Regions from separate parts of the Homo sapiens genome. Here region 1 is linked to region 2. The links come from fine-mapping of genetic effects on gene expression. A gene starts in region 2. The other region holds a variant in brackets. All regions are shown on one strand. Distances are from middle to middle.

What was found.
Region 1: its variant is fine-mapped to the expression of TACC1 in whole blood (INTERVAL, PIP above 0.99). The same link has a PIP of 0.9 or more in nasal epithelium.

What each region holds. Positions count from the first base shown.
Region 1 is chr8:38,824,181-38,833,667 of GRCh38, forward strand. It overlaps TACC1 (transforming acidic coiled-coil containing protein 1), which reads left to right. Exons shown (of 13, transcript NM_006283.3): 4 at 1,128-1,188; 5 at 2,988-3,195; 6 at 6,945-6,997. Among named protein-coding and RNA genes, the nearest start is that of TACC1, 42 kb to the left of the region's middle. The variant G/A (reference allele first, on the strand shown) is at 4,347.
Region 2 is chr8:38,783,738-38,793,224 of GRCh38, forward strand. TACC1 (transforming acidic coiled-coil containing protein 1) reads left to right here and starts at 3,499. Exons shown (of 13, transcript NM_006283.3): 1 at 3,499-4,006; 2 at 4,967-5,082. The coding sequence starts at 3,846. RefSeq lists an enhancer at 3,103-3,182 and a silencer at 3,223-3,762.

The DNA of each region.
Region 1 (9,487 bases), 40 kb after region 2:
TAGCCTTGCAGTTGTCCATACCTAAGGGAGTGGGGCTTGGCCTTTACACCTTAGGTGCTAGAGCTTGCACTCCCTGGCTTGGCAGGTGTCACGTGGCGCTTTGACAATACCAAAAGCTGGCTTGGCCCCAAGATCATCACAGCAGTGGTTTGAGGGACTGTTCTGCTATTTAATATTGGAAATCATTGGCTTTTTTGGTAGCATAAAGCTACTGGCTTGGAACAGTTAATAAATTTTACTGAGTCAGCTCAACTTGAGTTTGGTGGCAGAGGGTAGCACTCAGTAAGAAGATTAGGGAAAGAAGATCATGAACTAGTGATTATGCACATTCCGGTAACTTATGTGCTTGTCTTTGTATTTTTTCTCACAAAAGAAAAAAAGTTGCAAATAATTTTTTCTCTTTTTTTGGTCACAGTGGTGTTTTTCCTGGAAATTCTAAGTTTATTAGAACAGAATCTGAATTAGTCCTGTGATCACAAGTTGTGTGCTAATCTACAAATAACAGATGGTTCAAGCTTCCCCAGTTTCAGGCTTTGTGCAGCGTGTGACATTCATCTTCCATCTTACTACTTAATAGGAATGGTAACAGTTTACTCACATATTTTTACTTTTATACTTTTTATTGATGACAGTTCTTCTCTGTGAGCACACAAGTCTAACTGGAACTGTTTTATGAGACGTCTATGGCTTTTAGTGCAATAAAGAATTTTTAAAGAATTTGGTCCAGCGTGATGATTTTTCTAATGAATGTCAAAGCCAAGCGAGTGAGGCTCAGAGGAACTGAATGTCTCCAGCTGCTAAGGCTCTACTGTCTGCAAAGCTTTTGGTGGCGTGTAATTAAAAACCATAGACATCAGAGTGCTACTGTTTGACAACTCATAGAAGCAAGCTGAGGGGGTCTTTTCAGAGAATGAGCCCCGCTTGTAGGTCTTTGCTTACCCCGTCTCTCTGGAGAAAACTCAGAGGCATAAAAGGTGTCCCTGCCTCTCTCCTGCGGCGATGTATGATTTGTGTGGTGCTGTATGCTTTGGCTTCTATCCGCACACACTGCTGTCTGCTCCATTTCATACCTTGACAATTGTCAGTGTGATTGCAAACTGGCTTGTTTGTGTTTCTTCTCTTTCCAGGAGTGGCTGTAAGGTGAAGAAGCATGAAACTCAGTCTCTCGCCCTGGATGCATGTTCTCGGGTGAGTCTGTGCCCATCTCCAGAATGTCTCTGAGACCAGGGGTCCTCCAGTGGGAGTTTGCATCCCCCTGGCGGGTGGTTCAAAAGGACTTTCCAATGGGTACCTGAGTACTCAGCTTTAAGAAGCCAATTTCCAGATCCTTACTGTCCCTGAAGAGAAGGCCCCTGAAGACAAGGGAACCCTTTCACAATGACTCTTTTTTTTTTTTGGTAAAATTCCCACTTTAAATGCTACAAAGATGCATCACCACAGGGTGTGAAAGTCTCCAGGGCACCGAAGGGAAGATCTGAAATACTGGTGTAGGTTCTAATAAGATAATTGACTCTAATAACTGGATGGTATTTTTCTTAAGTCAGATGGTTTTCTAATTCATTGCTTTCAACAATAGAGGAAAACCTGAGTTGTCAGCTGATAGGTCTAAAAATAATGTTTGATGGTAGATTTTTTTGGGCACATAACTTGGAAAGGGGTTCAAAGAATTGAAAGGCACTTATGTTACAGAACTACTTTCTGTTTCATCTATTGTTTATATAAATAAGGTTTCTTAATGATTATATTGATAAAAATAGAAACCAGGAATAAAATTGATGTTGACCTTTGTTACATTCTAGCAATAAATAATATCCATCCATGACCGTATAAACTAATTGCAAAACAAAGCGAAGCCCAGGCCCATCTGATTGCAATGAGATCCTTTTGTTCTTTTTAAAACTTTCTCAGTATACTTATTACAGAAATACATTCATTGGTTAATAGAGTTCAATTTAACATAACTTTTCCTCTACAATTTGGATCAGAAACTTGGTATATGGTGTAAGATGTAAAAAAGGGGTGTGATGGGGGAAATTTACAATCTGAGTTATTTTTCATCTGTTAACAAATGTGTAACATTCTCCCTCAGATTTTGCTAAAGTAGGCAGCAAGAACTATGAGAAATTTATCTTTGGTTTTCTTTAAAAAACAAAAACAAAAACCCAAAACCCATATATTTAGTGCACTGTAAAAGTTTTTAAGAATTAGTGCAATAAAACATTTTGTAATTGATATAACAACTTACTTTTGTGTCTGATAATACTTATCAAAACTTGCAATATTTTGAAAATAAGTTGTGCATTAATAAATGTGATAAGTCTCCAGCAGAAAAAATTTTAAGACTTAAAGAAAAAAGTTTCACAGAGACATTGGATAGAGACTTTTAAAAAGACTTTCAACCATGCAGATGTTTTTCATTTGGATAGTTTCTTGATGGAAGTGGGATGGAAATACAGATTTAGAGAGGAAAAGGAATAACATAAATTTCTGACTTATTCAGGAACTTGTTCATTTAAATTTACATATGGTATCAAATCACTAAGGTAACTAGATAGCATTAAGTAAATTCAATATTTAGAATATTCCAGATATTACATTCTTTGCAATTATTTAAACTTATGCCAAAAAGTTTTTAGATGTCACTTGAAAATGCAATGGGGGACATAGATTTTCAAAAAAAAATTAGGTATATGAGCAAAAAAATTGAAAACCATTGTCTTAAACCACTGAAACTGCTTGCTTATAAACTTAACCTAGAGAAGATCATTTTTTAAAACCTCAGACTCAAGTTACAGAAACTAGGTTCTATAAAACAGCATCTCACAATTGAAAGACTCCAACTTCCTCCTTGCTTTGTACCCAGGTCTGTGGTTAACCTCTCACATATCTGTATGGAGTTGTGTCTACTTTGTTCCATTCATGGGATGTCACTTTTCCCCATTGCTTGCCCTCCTAAAGGGTAGCATCTTCTCTGTTGTGTTTCTCAGGATGAAGGGGCAGTGATCTCCCAGATTTCAGACATTTCTAATAGGGATGGCCATGCTACTGATGAGGAGAAACTGGCATCCACGTCATGTGGTCAGAAATCAGCTGGTGCCGAGGTGAAAGGTGAGCCAGAGGAAGACCTGGAGTACTTTGAATGTTCCAATGTTCCTGTGTCTACCATAAATCATGCGTTTTCATCCTCAGAAGCAGGTATGGAAGCATATCTTCATCTTTCTAATGTACATAAGCATGGAAATGCCTGAAAGCCTAATAAAGCAGGAGGAGCCTTACAGAGATTAAAGAATTGGGTCACTTGAAGGATAGATTTAGGATGCTGACCTATGCTTTGCTTCTTTACCTGGAAAAGGGACACAAAGTGCTTATTGAAGTACTAGGAACGTAGAGATACTTGTGACAAGTTGTATAGGAGATGCTGATGTATGTGAGACTGCTTGAATTTCTTTATAATTTTATGTGAATATGGCCATATCTTAAAGTATAGTGGTGTGTTAGTTCATTTGCGTTGCTGTAAAGGAATACCTGAGAATGGCTAATTTATAGGAAAAAGAGGTTTATTTGGTTCATGGTTCTGCAGACTGTAGAATAAGCATGGCACCAGTGCCTGCTTCTGGTGAGGGACTCAGGAAGCTTCCAATCATGGTGGAAGGCAAGGGGGAGCAAGTGTGTCACATGGCGAGAGGTGGGAGGAAGAGGGGGCGGGGAGGATGCCAGGCTATTTTTAACAAAGATTTCACAGAAACTAACAGCAAGAAGTCGCTCATTACCACAAGGAGGGCACCAAGCTATTCATGAGGGATCCGCTCCTATGACCCAGCCACCTCCCATTAGGCCTCACTTCCAACTGTTGATCAGGTTTCAACATGAGATTTAGGGGGCAAATATTTAAACTATATCAAATGGCCTATAAATATGTCATATGTTTGACTTTTTTGTGATTGTTATACTCATTGTTTAACTTAGAGAAATAACAACTGACATGTATGGTGCCTTACCATGTACAGGCATTGTTTTAAGTGCTTTGCATATACTCATTCATAGCAAGGTGTTACCCTTTTCTCACTTCTTCAGAGAAACAAAGTAAGTCAAAGAAGTTAAGTGACTTGATTAAAGTCACTTGGCTAGGGTAGGACAGAAAAGTGGTATCTTTTTCCTCACCACAAGGTTCATGGCTGAGACATCTCTAACAAAAGATCAACAAGAGAAAAGTGTACAAATATATTTAATATAAGTTTTACATGACATTAGAGCCTCCAGAAATGAAGACCCAAAGGAACAGGGAAAACTGTACTTTTATAGATAGTTGTGCAGAAGTATAATTGGAGGACAGAAGGGTGTGATCT[G/A]TGGTAATAAACCAGGGGAACTTAGCAAGTCCTGTTTGTTCCAATTCCTCTTGGTGTCTGTGTCTTTCAGGATAAGGACATTGTTTTTCTCTGTGTACAGGGAGGACCCCTCTTGTAATGAGGTCTTATGAACTATTTTCAGGGGAAGGTCTGAGGGGTTGCTTTATGGCCTGCTTCAGGAAAGGGGGCAGGAGAGGGGCCGAGAGACCTCCCTGCTTCTGCTGTGTCCTCAAATGCGAAGGCACCATATTTTGGTGAAGTGTGTTCTGAACCTCATCATTAGTAAATGGTAGAACTACATTTGACTCTAAGCAGTCTGGTTCCATGGTCTTTTCGCCACAATGCCAAAGTATGAAGAGATTATTTTCATGATACTAGGCTACTGTAAATTTTCCTGGTACAGATGTGGTAAGTTGAGATTGACCAGTGCACTGTAAAATCTTTCTTAACATGCCAATGAGGAACCTGGGCTAACCAGGGTGGAAGCCTCTTATTGATGGACTCATCAGATCATTCTAGAGCTAAGCCCCTCTTTCTTGGGACCCCAGTTACATCCTTGGCCTTAAACTTTACTTATGAAAAGTTTAGAACCATGTTCCTGACTACATTAAACATTATTAAAAACTCAGATCTTCTTAACATAATTTTATTCATGGGCTTTTATGTATAGAATTTTAAAAGTCATGATCTGCCATTAAGCCAGGGAAGCAGATGGAAAGTCAGGACTTGGAGCAATTTATTCCCCCTGGCCTCCTTCTCATCCCAGGCCTCAGTCTCTCATCTATAAAATAATATGCCAGGCATTGTTCCTGATTTCTTCCAATACTGTCTTCTGCCCTGACATCTTTCCCAAAGATATTGTTCACCATTCCCCCAGTTTCTTGGGGTTAATCCTGAGTATTCTTAACACCTGCCTTGGTTTTTTTCCATCTGAAGTGTCTTCCTTTGCTGCCTCTTACACAGATCTGCACATCCCTTCAGGTCTCTCCAGCATGCTTTTGCTCCCACATTTCCTTTCCCCCTTCCTGTTCCACAGTACCTAGCGCAGTGTGTTAATTACAGGAAGGTAATATTATAAACTTACTGAGGTTAGAGACTACCACTCATCTTTGAGTCACCTTTGACACAGTACATGGTAAACATTTATTGAATTATATTCTTCCTCACTAGAGGAAATTCCTTCAATAAAAATTTATGTAGAGAGCTGGGGCCCTGTACATACAGTGCTGTCTTCAAAGTTAGCAAACAGCAAGGGGAACATATTTAAACAAGTGGTTACATTGTAACTGATCAGCCGCATCACAAGCAAGTGGAGGCTGCGGTCCTGGGTGTGGGAATGGCTACAGGCCCTGTTAGGTGAATCCTGACTGTGTCCTGGTGAGTGTCCCCTTGAAGCTGGGTCCTGATGGATACTTACTAGATGTTCTCCAGGAAATGAGATTTTCACACAGCCATGGGAAGAAAGCTGCCACGTTGGTAAAAGGCCTGGTTGCTTTCTGTAAGTATCTGGCCAAGTGGGAAACAAGGTCATACCGTGGAATCTGGGCTTGATCCTATAGGTAGGGAGGGGGAGGTTGAAGGTTTTTGAATAAGGGAGTGATGGTCACATTTGTGTTTTAAATAATTAGCTATTGACAACAATAGTAGTTAGTGATTGCCATGTGGAGGATTGTAACTTTAAACTTTTGTATGCTTTTCTGTATTTTTATGTTTACTTTAATGAGTGCATCTTCTGGTTATTTTATTTTTTATTTTTCTTATTTTTGAGACTGAGTTTCGCTCTTGTTGCCCAGGCTGGAGTGTGGTGGCGCTATCTCAACTCACTGCAACCTCCAGCTCCCGGGTTCAAGCGATTCTCCTGCTTCAGCCTCCCAAGTAGCTGAGATTATAGGCATGCGCCACCACGCCCAGCTAATTTTTGTATTTTTAGTAGATGAGGCTTCGCCATGTTGGCTAGGCTGGTCTCCTGACCTCAGATGATCCACCCACCTTGGCCTCCCAAAGTGCTGGGATTACAGGCATGAGCCACTGTGCCCAGCCATCTTCTGGTTATTTTAAATGTCATCCTCTACCCTAGTAGAGTAGAGGATAGACCTGAGACAAGGAAGCCCATTTGAAGGGGTGGAGGGGAGAATGAGTTTAGTTTCGCTGCCTTGAATTTTAAAGCTTATTATCTTATCTGCTGCATTAATTAGATCAAGGCCACCCTTCTGGGCTGGAATTTAAATTCACTCCGACTTGATGATTAAAAAAAAGCATTCAGTGTTACACAGTGTCCCCTTTCTGAAATAATGCCACAGTTAGTACGACACATTTTTCCAAACTTTTAATGGACACAAGGGGGCAGCCTTGCTGTTCTTTCAGCCTGAAGGCTGACGACCTGTTTGTGGCTGACTAACCATGTGCTCCTCTTCTGAATGTCATGGACTTATAACAGCACTCAACAAAATGCCAGCGCTCCTTTTAAATAAAATCTTAAAATGCTTTTCATGTGTTCATAAGTCATTCTCGCCTGCACTGGGGTTTCCAAGAGCCTTTCACTAGGGAGGAAAGGAACCGACTTCTTGGGATAACTATAAAAATGACTTTCTGTCTTAGGCATAGAGAAGGAGACGTGCCAGAAGATGGAAGAAGACGGGTCCACTGTGCTTGTAAGTTCCTGAATGTGGAGGGCCGGGTGGACTCAGGTTTCTTTCAGTATTTGTTTTGAAGCCCATGTGAATTTGTTAAATTCTGGTCAGTGTTAGGTGATGAGGATAAAATGTAAATGAGATAGTTTCTTCACTTGAGGAACACATAGTCTCTGCATTGTAACCCTAGCCGCAGGTAGCTGTGGAGCACTTGAACTGTAGCTACTCAGAAAAAGAAGAAGCATAAATGTCTCAACTTTTTATATTAACTACATGTTGAGATGATAATATTTTGGATGTCTTGGGTTAACTAAGGTTTATTATTATCATTATTATTGTTGTTATTATTATTATTATTTGAGACAGTCTCACTCTGTTCCCCAGGCTGGAGTACAGTGGTGCAATCTTGGCTAACTGCAACCTTCACCTCCTGGGCTCAAGTGATCCTTCTACCACAGCCTCCCAAGTAGCTGGAACTAGAGGCACGTGCCACCGCACCCAGCTAGTTTTTGTATTTTTTGCAGAAATGGGGTCTTGCCATGTTACCTAGGCTGGTCTCAAACTCCTGGGCTCAAGCAATCTGCCCACCTCCGCCTCCCAAAGTGCTGGGATTACAGGCATGAGCCCCTGCACCTGGCTGGTTTACTCAGTTCTTTTTTTTTTTTTTGAGACAGAGTTTCACTCTTGTCACCCAGGTTGGAGTACAGTGACGCAATCTCGGCTCACTACAACCTCCACCTACTGGGTTCAAGCAGTTCTCCTCCCTCAGCCTCCTCAGTAGCTGGGATTACAGGCATGCGCCACCACGCCCAGCTAATTTTTGTATTATTAGTAGAGATGGGGTTTCACCATGTTGGCCAAGCTGGTCTCAAACTCCTGACCTCAGGTGATCCACCTGCCTTGGCCTCCTGAAGTGCTGGGATTACAGGCATGAGCCACTGCGCCCAGCCCATTTACTCAGTTCTTAAACTTTAAACTTCCTAATTCCCAACTGATTCATCCATAAAATGAGTAGCACCCATCTGCCTTATCAAAGTGGTTGTAAGGATAAGATGAAATGACAACGTGAAAGATTTAAGCTGTAAAGTGCTAGAATACACTAGTGTGCTAGAATACACTGTTGTGTTAGAATACACTGGTGTGGTGTTGATAGGAAACACGTGGAAAAGAGAGTGGAAAGGAAGAGAGTGAAAAAGAAAAATGGCAAACACTGTCTCTGAAGCCAGCTGGTGAGGAACATATCATATGCTGTGACCTTTTAAAAGCAACTCCTTTTGAACTTCCCAACATAAATTAATTTCTGCTTCCTTAGAACATTGAATAAACATTGTATAAAGAAATTTCACCATGCAAAACATTGAATGAAAAAATCATCTATTTAATCCATCATTCACTTTTTAAGTTTATCTGTGTTGCTCTGAAGTCCATTCTTATGTGGTCTTGTGCCCAGCAGTAGGTGGTGGCTGGACTAAGGCCAGAGTACAATCAGTGGTAGGAGTCAGTCTCTCCTTGCTTTTCAGCTGTTGTTCCACAGCATTTTTCACGTAAGAAGTTAACTTTTCTTTTTAAGTTTTAAATGTTTTAAAAGGTGAGTTCATTTGGCTTTTTTGGGCACGTCTCTGTTAGAGTACGGCAGGGGCTGATACTGCTCTCTTGTGATTGAGGACAAATGAGCACAGTCAGCACACTGCCACAGATTAGTGATGCGAATTCTCCACAGCCACGGGAATCAGTGGCATCTGTGCTCACTGTAAATTTGCAACCGGGAGTCCATTGAGTTCTGTTGTCTATAGACTGGTCTTTGTTGGTCCTCAATTGTGAATGTTTTGAGGGACTGGGAGAAGCACTGGCAAACATGAAATAAAGCCCTTTTGGAAGGATATGATTGATTGATTTAGCGTCTTCATTAAAGACATATTAGATGGCCCAGGCCTAAAACAGATCTTCTGGCCAATTCTCTGTGATGGTAGATTCTATAACAAGCTTGTCCAACTTGCTTAATTTTGTTGTTGTTGTTCTGATTGGTTTTGTTTTAGGCTTTTAGCAGCCTGAAGCCATAGTTTTTAGTTTCTGTCTCTAGTGATAAGCGGAAAAGAGGGATGAGGAAGGGGCTTTACTGCCCCAACCAGAAACAGAAACTAAGAACCCATGACTGCATTCTCTCCCTTGGACACCCCTGTGAAATGTTCTGCACTTTTTGATAAGCAACTTAAAGGACTAAGGAATGTAAAAAGTTAAATCCTAGGAGACTGGAAAAGATGGCTAAAGTAGGCAAGGGCATACATTCCTGCCCTGACACCTGTAAGAGTTGTTGCATTTTGAGTAGTGAGGTTTGTAAATGTGGCCAGGCAGAGAGGAGAGTGGCTGGGGAGAGTCGGCAGGCTGAAGAGCCCACTCACCTGGAGACATTAAACACCATCTAAGGTTTGATCTCCTACCGCCTGCTCAGGATGCTGCCTCTTCCAGACCCCACATGTGTTAGCATTGAGTTGTTAAGCAGGCAGACTGAAT
Region 2 (9,487 bases):
GAACATACCCTGACACCTCTCTTTTAAAAAATTAGAAAGGAGCTTCTCTTTATAATTTTCTGTATAAATGCATTGTACACAGTCCTGATTTCGGTGTTTGGGTAGTGGAGGGAAGATTGTAATTCTATAGATGTTTGTAGTCTACAGGTAAAGGATAATTAGGTAAATATCTGATCTTGCAAGGTTAAGACTGTCATGTTAACATATTTGAATGCGGTCAGATGCTGTTATTGGCAATGTTGTCTTGATTAGACATCATCATGCCCTTGCCTGGTTAGACTGAGGTAGGGCAGAAAAGCAGATAGGGTGGCCACAGCCTCCTGTTGGCAATGGCACGTCTTCACTGACAGGGCTAGAGTGTTCCTAGTTGTGACTTTGCAACCTGTACCAGGTAAGAACGAAGCCAGGACTAGGAGCAGCAGACTGAGAGGAGTGGTCCAGCTAATGGACTCATATTCATTACTGCTTACACTAAGTTCAAGAACTTGCAGAGGAGTGATTTTCAGAAACCTTAGGCATTTATTTGCTAGTCCAGTCTCAAGAAGTTGCTGCAGGCCGGGTGCGGTGGCTCACACCTATAATCCCAGAACTTTGGAAGTGGGTGGATCACCTGAGGTCAGGAGTTCAAGACCAGCCTGGCCAACATGATGAAACCCCGTCTCTACTAAAAAATAAAAAAATTAGCTGGGCATGGTGGCAGGAACCTGTAATCCCAGCTACTTGGGAGGCTGAGGCAGGGAGAATCGCTTGAACCCAGGAGGCGGAGGTTGCAGTCAGCTGAGACTGCACCACCGTGCTCCAGCCTGGGTGACAGAGTGAGACTCCATCTCAAAAAAAAAAAAAAGTAAATTGCTGCATAGGTGAGGCTTAATCTTACTGGGGCCATCACTTGGTCCTGGGTTCTGTTATTTTCTGGCCCAGAAACTAGATTTCCCCAGGGGGAGTCAGGCTTTAGGAATTTATGTCACCTTAGCCAAACTCACAAGGACTATTTGTAAACTAGAATGTTTGTTTTTTCTTACATATATATTGAACACCTACTGAGTGTGTGGTTCTGTCCTAATTTCTGGAGGAAGTCCCAAAGGGGGGTAAAGTCCCTTTAGAAGCTTGTGGGACAGATATGTAAATAAATATGTTATATATGGTGTGCTAAGTGTAGAATGGCCTTACATCCTGGTCTTCTGGAGACAGTCCTGGTTTATGCCTATAGTCCCTGTGTAACTATTAAGAATGCTGTCTTTCACTTTCAGATCTAAGGCCACAGGAAGTGTTCTTTATGGATGTTCGGGGTATAGAAATGATAGAAAGGAAGGACAATGAGCCTGCTTCCCCCTGTAGACACTTGAGCTAAGTGCTGAAGGACGTTCGAGCAGCTGAAGCCTGGGAACTTGGGGTGGGCTGGGGTGGGGGAGGAGGTGTGTTCCAGGAATTCGCAAAGCTCCCTCTGCAGGCAAAGGGAGACTGTTCCCGAAGCAGTAAGCAGTTGGTTCAAGCTAGGCACTGTTTCCCAAATTTACCCTGTGATAACAGTTCCCCAGGACACTTAGTGAACACACAGATTTCCAGACTCTGCTGGCAATTTGGATTTTTTTAAGAAGGCTGGCGGATGATTCTTGGGCATATTAAAGATTGACAACGAGTTCTCTACTCACTGTGGCTAGGAATACAAAAGGATGGGCATAGAGGGGAATGGGAACCGAAAGATTAGAGCACGAGTCACTGATCAGCCAGGCAGGGGTGACCTCAGGCAAGAAAACCTTCAGAGGTAAAACCAGGTGGGAGTTATTTACAGTAGATCATGAAAGATGGGGAGTGCGGGAACTATGTCAGTCACCACAGGGATGCAAAGGAATGAAAAGATAAGAGAACTATTCAGGAGGAAGAACAGGTCCTAGTGTATGCTAGTTACTGATTTGCTGGGGTAATATTATTTCCCAGAAACAGAACCCTGTGTCAAATCCAGGAGCCTGGGGGACTGTAGAACCTGAAGTTTTACTGGGTAAGCATAAACCTAAAACTACAACAGTTGGATAAGTGGTGTGATATATTTCACATGGACCTCCTGCCTAGTTCACTTCTTTATAGTCGCTAGAACACTCATGACAATTTATTTCTGGGAAGAAGCCAGGATGAATTCGAAAGCATCCTGACACCCCACCCCTTTCTTTTCTCTAGACTTCAGGTTAACTCCTGCCCTTCGGTTTTGGTAAAACTACCCTGCCAAGCCTTATCTTGTATTTTGCTCCTGTTTTTGTTATCAAATGTGTAAAACAGTCACGATGAATATACATGCCAACTGCTTTCAGAGGCAACGGTTAGTCTCTTGCAAGTTTCAACGTGCACATTTTGGAGCTGCTGTCTCTGTGGGAACCTGCAGGCACCTCATGGATGCACCACAACTCGGAAATTACAGTACCACCTGGAACACCTTATCCAGGCAAGGAGATCATTAAGCCTGGTGTTTGAGGCAATCGATTCACTTGGAAGAAGGTGCTTTGGTGGTTTTGAGAGGAACAATCCCTACATGAAATCCCTCCATGGGAAATGGAGAACATCAGCTATTTCCCATTGCCTTCAAACCTAAAGATGTCGCCAGGCCTCTTGGCTTGTTACTGAAGCAGCGAAATAAGTCAGAAATCAAAGACTTAGAAGTTACGAAAAGAAAATCTCAAAAAGGAGAATGGGGTCAGGCGCGGTGTCAGGCCTGGAATCCTAGCATTTTGGGAGGCAGAGGCGGGAGGATCGCTTGTGGCCAAGAGTTCAAGACCAGCCTGGGCAACATATCGAGACGCCTGTCTGTATTTTAAATAAATAAATATGGAGAATGGGAAACCCATCAGGCTGTAATCTCACAGGGAATTTAGTACCCTTTACCTAAGACAAGACCTGGGCACTTGGGAAGCCTCCCCGAGTGCGGTTTGGGGAGGGGGAGGGCATCTTAAATTCCAGTCCTCGGTCACTCTTGTGGCTTTGCCAAGGGATTTTCAAATCCCGGGAATGCCAGGGATGGAGATGAACAGGCTGAAATCCCCCACGCTGCCAGGGTTAGGGAGGGGAAAACAACAGTCCACAGCGGCCGCGAAGGTTTGTATTTTTTTTTTTTTGGTAACAAGGGGCTTGTGTGCAGTCCAATATCACCATCGCCGTGAAGTCACAGTGGCAAGATGAAAATGTTTAAAAAAATTTTAAAAAGGAATAAGGAAAGAGGAAGAGGACAGCGTGCCCCGGCTCAGAAAACGGTCCTCCTCTGCCCCGGACGCCGGCGGACCTGTGGGGTATGACCGAATCTCCCCGCGCAGCCGGCAAGCCCCGGCCCTCAGTCGGGCCGCGACCAGCGTGACGCCGCGGTAGGGGGATCCGGCGGGCGCGCGGCCGTCTTCAAAGCCCCGGCGCCGCCGCCGCCCCCGCGCGCGCGCGCGAGTAGTACGGTCCGAGGGGGCGGCTTCTGGGGCGCGGCTCCGGCGGCAGCTGATGCGCGCCCCGCCGGCCGGGAGGCGGGAGTCCGCGAGCCGGGAGCGGGAGCAGCAGAGGTCTAGCAGCCGGGCGCCGCGGGCCGGGGGCCTGAGGAGGCCACAGGACGGGCGTCTTCCCGGCTAGTGGAGCCCGGCGCGGGGCCCGCTGCGGCCGCACCGTGAGGGGAGGAGGCCGAGGAGGACGCAGCGCCGGCTGCCGGCGGGAGGAAGCGCTCCACCAGGGCCCCCGACGGCACTCGTTTAACCACATCCGCGCCTCTGCTGGAAACGCTTGCTGGCGCCTGTCACCGGTTCCCTCCATTTTGAAAGGGAAAAAGGCTCTCCCCACCCATTCCCCTGCCCCTAGGAGCTGGAGCCGGAGGAGCCGCGCTCATGGCGTTCAGCCCGTGGCAGATCCTGTCCCCCGTGCAGTGGGCGAAATGGACGTGGTCTGCGGTACGCGGCGGGGCCGCCGGCGAGGACGAGGCTGGCGGGCCCGAGGGCGACCCCGAGGAGGAGGATTCGCAAGCCGAGACCAAATCCTTGAGTTTCAGGCAAGTACACGGCGTCCCCGCTGAGATGCAGACGCGCTTGCCTCCATCCATCTGCGACTCCCTCTGTGTGCGTGTGTGTGGTCGCCACCCGCGAAACCGTCCTCACGGCCGTGCCGCGTCCCTGCCCGGAGCCGGGTCCCCGTGTGCGTCCGAAAGTTCAGGATCTTCTGTCCTCCCGTGGGGTTTCTGGCCCCCGTTTCGCTAGGAGAGTTCCGCACCCAACCCAGAATCTGCAGTCTCTCCGCATCCCCGCTGGCCTCGGTCACTTTCTCTAAGCTTCGACCCCCAGCCCCCGCCCCTCCACACTGGAGCAACGTCACTGATCTAACCCAGTGCAACTTAGGGCCCCCCCGTGGGGAAGAAGTCGCTCCCCGGCCCTTCCCGGGGCCCTACCGTGTACCCAAAACGCAGCCGCGGTGAAGAAGGTCGCGTGATGACAGGCCCCTGGCAGCTGCTGGGAAATGGTGGTCTCTGCCGGGCTGTCATCCGCGTGATTGCGGAAGGCAGGTGACACCATTCTTAGCCTCGGGCCCAGGGAGTTCCAGCAGGTAGAGGCCTACCGAGCAAAGAGGAATGCCTAGCATCGGCCTAACTCGGGGGTGGGACCAGTATTAATTGTTAAAGCCTCTGGGAAAGGGCTCTTGTGACAAAAGGAGTCTGTTGGAAAAGCGCATTTTTCAGGTGTCTGAGGGAAGGATGACCTCGAAAATAAATGGTGCTGGAGAAAAGCTCCAGGGAATGGAGGAGCTTTCAGAGAGACAGGATGCCAGCCTGAGAAACCCAAGGAGGGCACTGCTCAGAGACCGCAGTTGCCTCCCGCAGGTCAGACCCTGCTGAGGACCGGTTGGTTGTGAAGTTAGACAAAAGTGCTGGACTTTTAGCCTCTGTGAATATGTAGATTTCAAAGGGTGTCGGAAATACCGTTGAAAGTGGTAATTCCTCATTTTTCCTCCTTGGCAGCTCGGATTCTGAAGGTAATTTTGAGACTCCTGAAGCTGAAACCCCGATCCGATCACCTTTCAAGGAGTCCTGTGATCCATCACTCGGATTGGCAGGACCTGGGGCCAAAAGCCAAGGTAAAGAAAAACTTGCATTTTTCCTGCCTGTTTTGTTTCAAAAGTTTTGAAAAATATCAATGAAGGAAGGAAAAAAGTGTAAATTTAGGACCATTTAAGAGAGTTTGACTAAGAAAGAGCTGTTTGAAACCTCCTGGCTTATGTATTTTTAGGGGTGTGGTGATCGAGGCTTTCTCCTCTGAGTAGAGTTTGTGCATTTGCAGTATAAGATTATCATTATCAAACATTCCTACTAGGCCTTTCTCCTCAGCCCCTAAAAAAATATGTATAGTAATGAAGTAGGAAGATCATGTTTATATTTGACTTCACAAATTCCTCAGGCTAAGTTGCTTTCTACTGGGGTGTGGCTGGAGACAAAAATTACAGGTAAGACTTGACTTAATTTTTGATAGGGAGGTTCTTAAGAGGCTTTTTCGGAATCACTCACCTCGCCCACTTCCATGCAGGGATGTGGTGAGAGCCCTTCAGTCTACTTAGGAAAACCTGGCACATGGATTCCCTCCCAGCCCCTCAGAGCCCAGCCCTTCATCTGCAGGAGCTTCCGTTGTCTCACTTAATTAGTAGAAACCTTTTTTGTCACACAGCCAGTTCAGAATAAAATTTCACCTATCCCAACAGAATTCATATGCTTATTTACTAAATAGAGTGCACTGTGATTCAGCAGTGAAGTCCTGCTCTCTCGAGCTAACATTGTGGAGGGAGAACCTGTGAAGGGTTAAGCAAAATATCTATGTCAGCTTGTGTGAAGCACTGTGGAGAAAAATAAAGCAGGGGAAGAGAATAGGGAATATGGAGTGGGGATAGGGAAGGCTGAAGGGGAGTTAGTGGGGGCATTCATGATTAGGTGACTTGAACAGAGACCTGAAGGCAGATTGAGGGAGCAGGCCTTGGAGGTTCCTGAGGTGGGAACCCTTCCAGCAGAAGGAGTGGCATCTGCAAAGGTCTGACAGCACCAGCCTGCTGCAGGGAGGCCGTAAGGTGGAGGGTTCATGGTACAGTTTGAGGACCAGCCAGGAGGTCAGTGTGGACTGACTACTCAGAGAGCAGGAGGAGCTGAAGTCAGCGTGGTCAGAGGAGGTCCAGATGCTGCTGCAGTGAGGATTTGGTTTTCAGTAAGGTGGAAAGCCACTGGAGGGCATATGCATTTCCAAGGGCTGCCATAACAGAGTAACTTAGCGGCTTACAATAACAGAAATTATTCTCTCACAGTCCTGGATAATTGAAATCAGAACCAGAAGTCTCAAGTCAAGGTGTTGGCAGGGCCTTGCTCTTCTGAAGGCTCCAGGAAGTCTGTCCTTGCCTCTTCTAGCCTCTGCTGGGTGTCTGCAATCCTTTGTGTTCTTTGGCTTGTGGCAGCAGAACTCCAGTCTCTGTCTCAACACATGGCCATCTTCTCCCTATGTATCTGTCTTACCGTGCCCTTCCTGTGAGGACACCAGTCGTTGAAGTTAGGGCCCACCCTAATCCAGTTTGACCTCATCTTAACTTGGTAACATCTTCAGAGATACTATTTCTAGATAAGGTCACATTCATAGGTACTAGGAGTTGGGACTTTAACATATCATTTTGAGAGACATAATTCAGCCCACAACAGAGAGCTTTGAACAGAGGGATTGTGATTCAGCTTCTTTTGTAAAAGGCTCCCTGGGCTGCTGTGTGGAGAAGGGACTCTAGGATGGAAGTCCTTTTTATGTGGTTTCTCTGTTCCAGTATCTGGCACTGTCACCCTGAAGTGGCAGCGCCAGCTTTCAGTTATCTAGCTACCTAAACTTTGTGCTGATTGTGACTTTCTCCTCTCCCTAATAAGTATTTTTATTGCTTAGCAACTTCTTCGTAGGTTGCCTAGGGAAGTCAAGTTACTCTGGTAATAGACTGCATGATGGAGCTGGAATTATTGGTAAAATGACATCAGCAAAAAGCTGATTTGGTTTTGCTTTAAATTGATAGCTCCATGCTGTGCTTACCCAGCTGAGAATTCAGCAATACCCTCAACTTGCCCTAGGCTGCATTTTGCCATTGTTCTAGGCAGGGACAACATGGGAATAGGCAAGCTTATATACTGGAGAATTTGTGTGCGACGCATAGCTGTGTAGCACTCTCAGTGATGAAGATAACACTTATTCCTCATAGCTTCCCTTTTCTTCCGTAAAGATTGGCAGATCAGAAGGGAGATTTTGAAGCTTGAAAGAACTATTTGGTGGCCTTTCCATCAAATTTAAATAAAGCTCATAAGACACATGTTAAGGAGCTGTTTGAAAGCCTTTTTGAATTGCCATCAGCTTGGGCGGCCCTTCCTCATCGTTTTGTCAGCTGCTAGACTGATTCATCCCGCCAGATTCTTTGCCAATTGAATAGAGGCCTGGATGACCTAGGCCCCCAAAACCACAGAGACCCAATTGTTTGGTCCTTCCTGTACCAGTGACTCTCACATTTTTTTCATTCTCTCTAAAAGGAAAACTTTTAAATGTTTATGGATCATGAAGGCTCTATGGGGTAGTTCATGAATGCAGACTGTAATTGTAGGGGTAGAGGAGTGTCCAGTCCAGGAAACAACCCTGCATATTATGAAGGCTTTCAGTTTAGGGTCTTTAAACAATAGGATGATTGCTCATCAACCTGGTCGTACCCTGACTTCCAGGGTCCTTGGGTGCAACATCCGGAGCTAGTCCAGAGTACCGCCAATGGCCTTGTCACACATACACAGCAAATGTGCAAAGACAGCCAGAGCACAGGTCTGCCTGGAGAGGATTTCAGTGGGCAGAAAGCCCTTCAGAGTCATTTCATATTGAAGTTTAATTTCTGGGACTGGATAAGTTCCCTTTCTCCCAAAATTATTGATTGTTTTGTTCCTGGTAAAGATAGTCTTTCATACTTTTGTGGTTCCAAGACATGGTTGGACCGCAGTTATAAATTATATAAGACTAAATCATTCTGGAAGAATGATTTACGAGGAGTTAGTCAGGAGTTGGAGTTGAAATATGTAAACATTCTGGCTTCCTGGTACATAATGGCCCTCAAACGTGTGGGCTACATTTACCATACCCATGGCTCCTGTGCTGACTTCTGTATAGTTCTTTGAACTCAGGGAAACATCTAAGACTATTTTGAAATGACTTTTCTTATACTGGAACTGCTTTAGGAACTTGCAGTATCTAAACTCTATAATGACTCTTCCTAAGAGTTGTATGCCAGGAGTTAAGTGGCGGATAAGGTTGTAGATTTTTTTTGAAGCCACATATAGAAGCAGGTTTTAGGCTTACTGGTAAAATAAAACTCTAGCTAAAGATATTTCCTGGAAATAACCAGACTGGTAGCTGTAAAGCTTGGGCTGGTCTGTATTTGCTATCTGTCTGTTTTCTCCCACTAAAGTTGTTTAATGCTGCTGCTGTTGTGGTGGTCTTTCTCTTTGCTGGGAAATATATTGGTGAAGAAACATCCTCTAGGAATGGACTTTTGAGGAGGTACAATCTCAAGTTCATCCTCTGTTTTGTTTTGCTTTGAGACAGGATCTATGTCTAGACTGGAGTGCAGTAGTATGATCATAGCTTACTGCAGCCTCCAACTCCTGGGCTCAGATGATCCTCCTGCCTCAGCCTCCTGAGTAGCTGGGACTATAGGCACACACTACCATGCCTGGCTAATTTTTTGTTTTGTTTTGTTTTTTGAGATAGAGTCTCGCTCTGTTGCCCTGGCTGAAATGCAGTGGTGCGATCTCGGCTCACTGCAAGCTCCGCCTCCTGGGTTCACGCCATTCTTCTGCCTCAGCCTCCCAAGTAGCTAGGACCACAGGCGCCCACCACTACGCCCAGCTAATTTTTTGTATTTTTAGTAGAGACGGGGTTTCACCGTGTTAGCCAGGATGGTCTCGATCTCCTGACCTCGTGATCCGCCCGCCTTGGCCTCCCAAAGTGCTGGGATTACAGGCGTGAGCCACCACGCCTGGCCAGTTTTTTTATTTTTTGTAGAGATAGGGTCTTGCTATGTTGCCTAGGCTGATCTCGAACTCCTGGCCTAAAGGGATTCTCCTGCCTCACCCTCCCAAAGTCCTGGGATTACAGGCGTGAGCTACCATGCCTGGCTTTTGTGTTTGCATGTGTGTTTATGGAGGACTTAGGGGTTGTGGCTTTGTGTAGCTGTTTCAGTCACAAAAACTGCAGTGGGTGCCCTCTGCCCCTTGAGTTTCTCCTTCACCAACATAGCCCCCCTTCCCCAAACACACACACCTTTATCTACAGATTGTTACCTCTCTCTGAGAAAGAGAATCTTAATTAGTGTAGAAGCTCTCACATCACCCTTGGAACAACTCGTTAAACCTCTCCAGTTTGATGTGTTAATTAAATGCCTAGGTATTTCAAACACAAACTGTAGTTCTCTGGACTTTTCCCCAGAATAGAAGAAAAGAGAT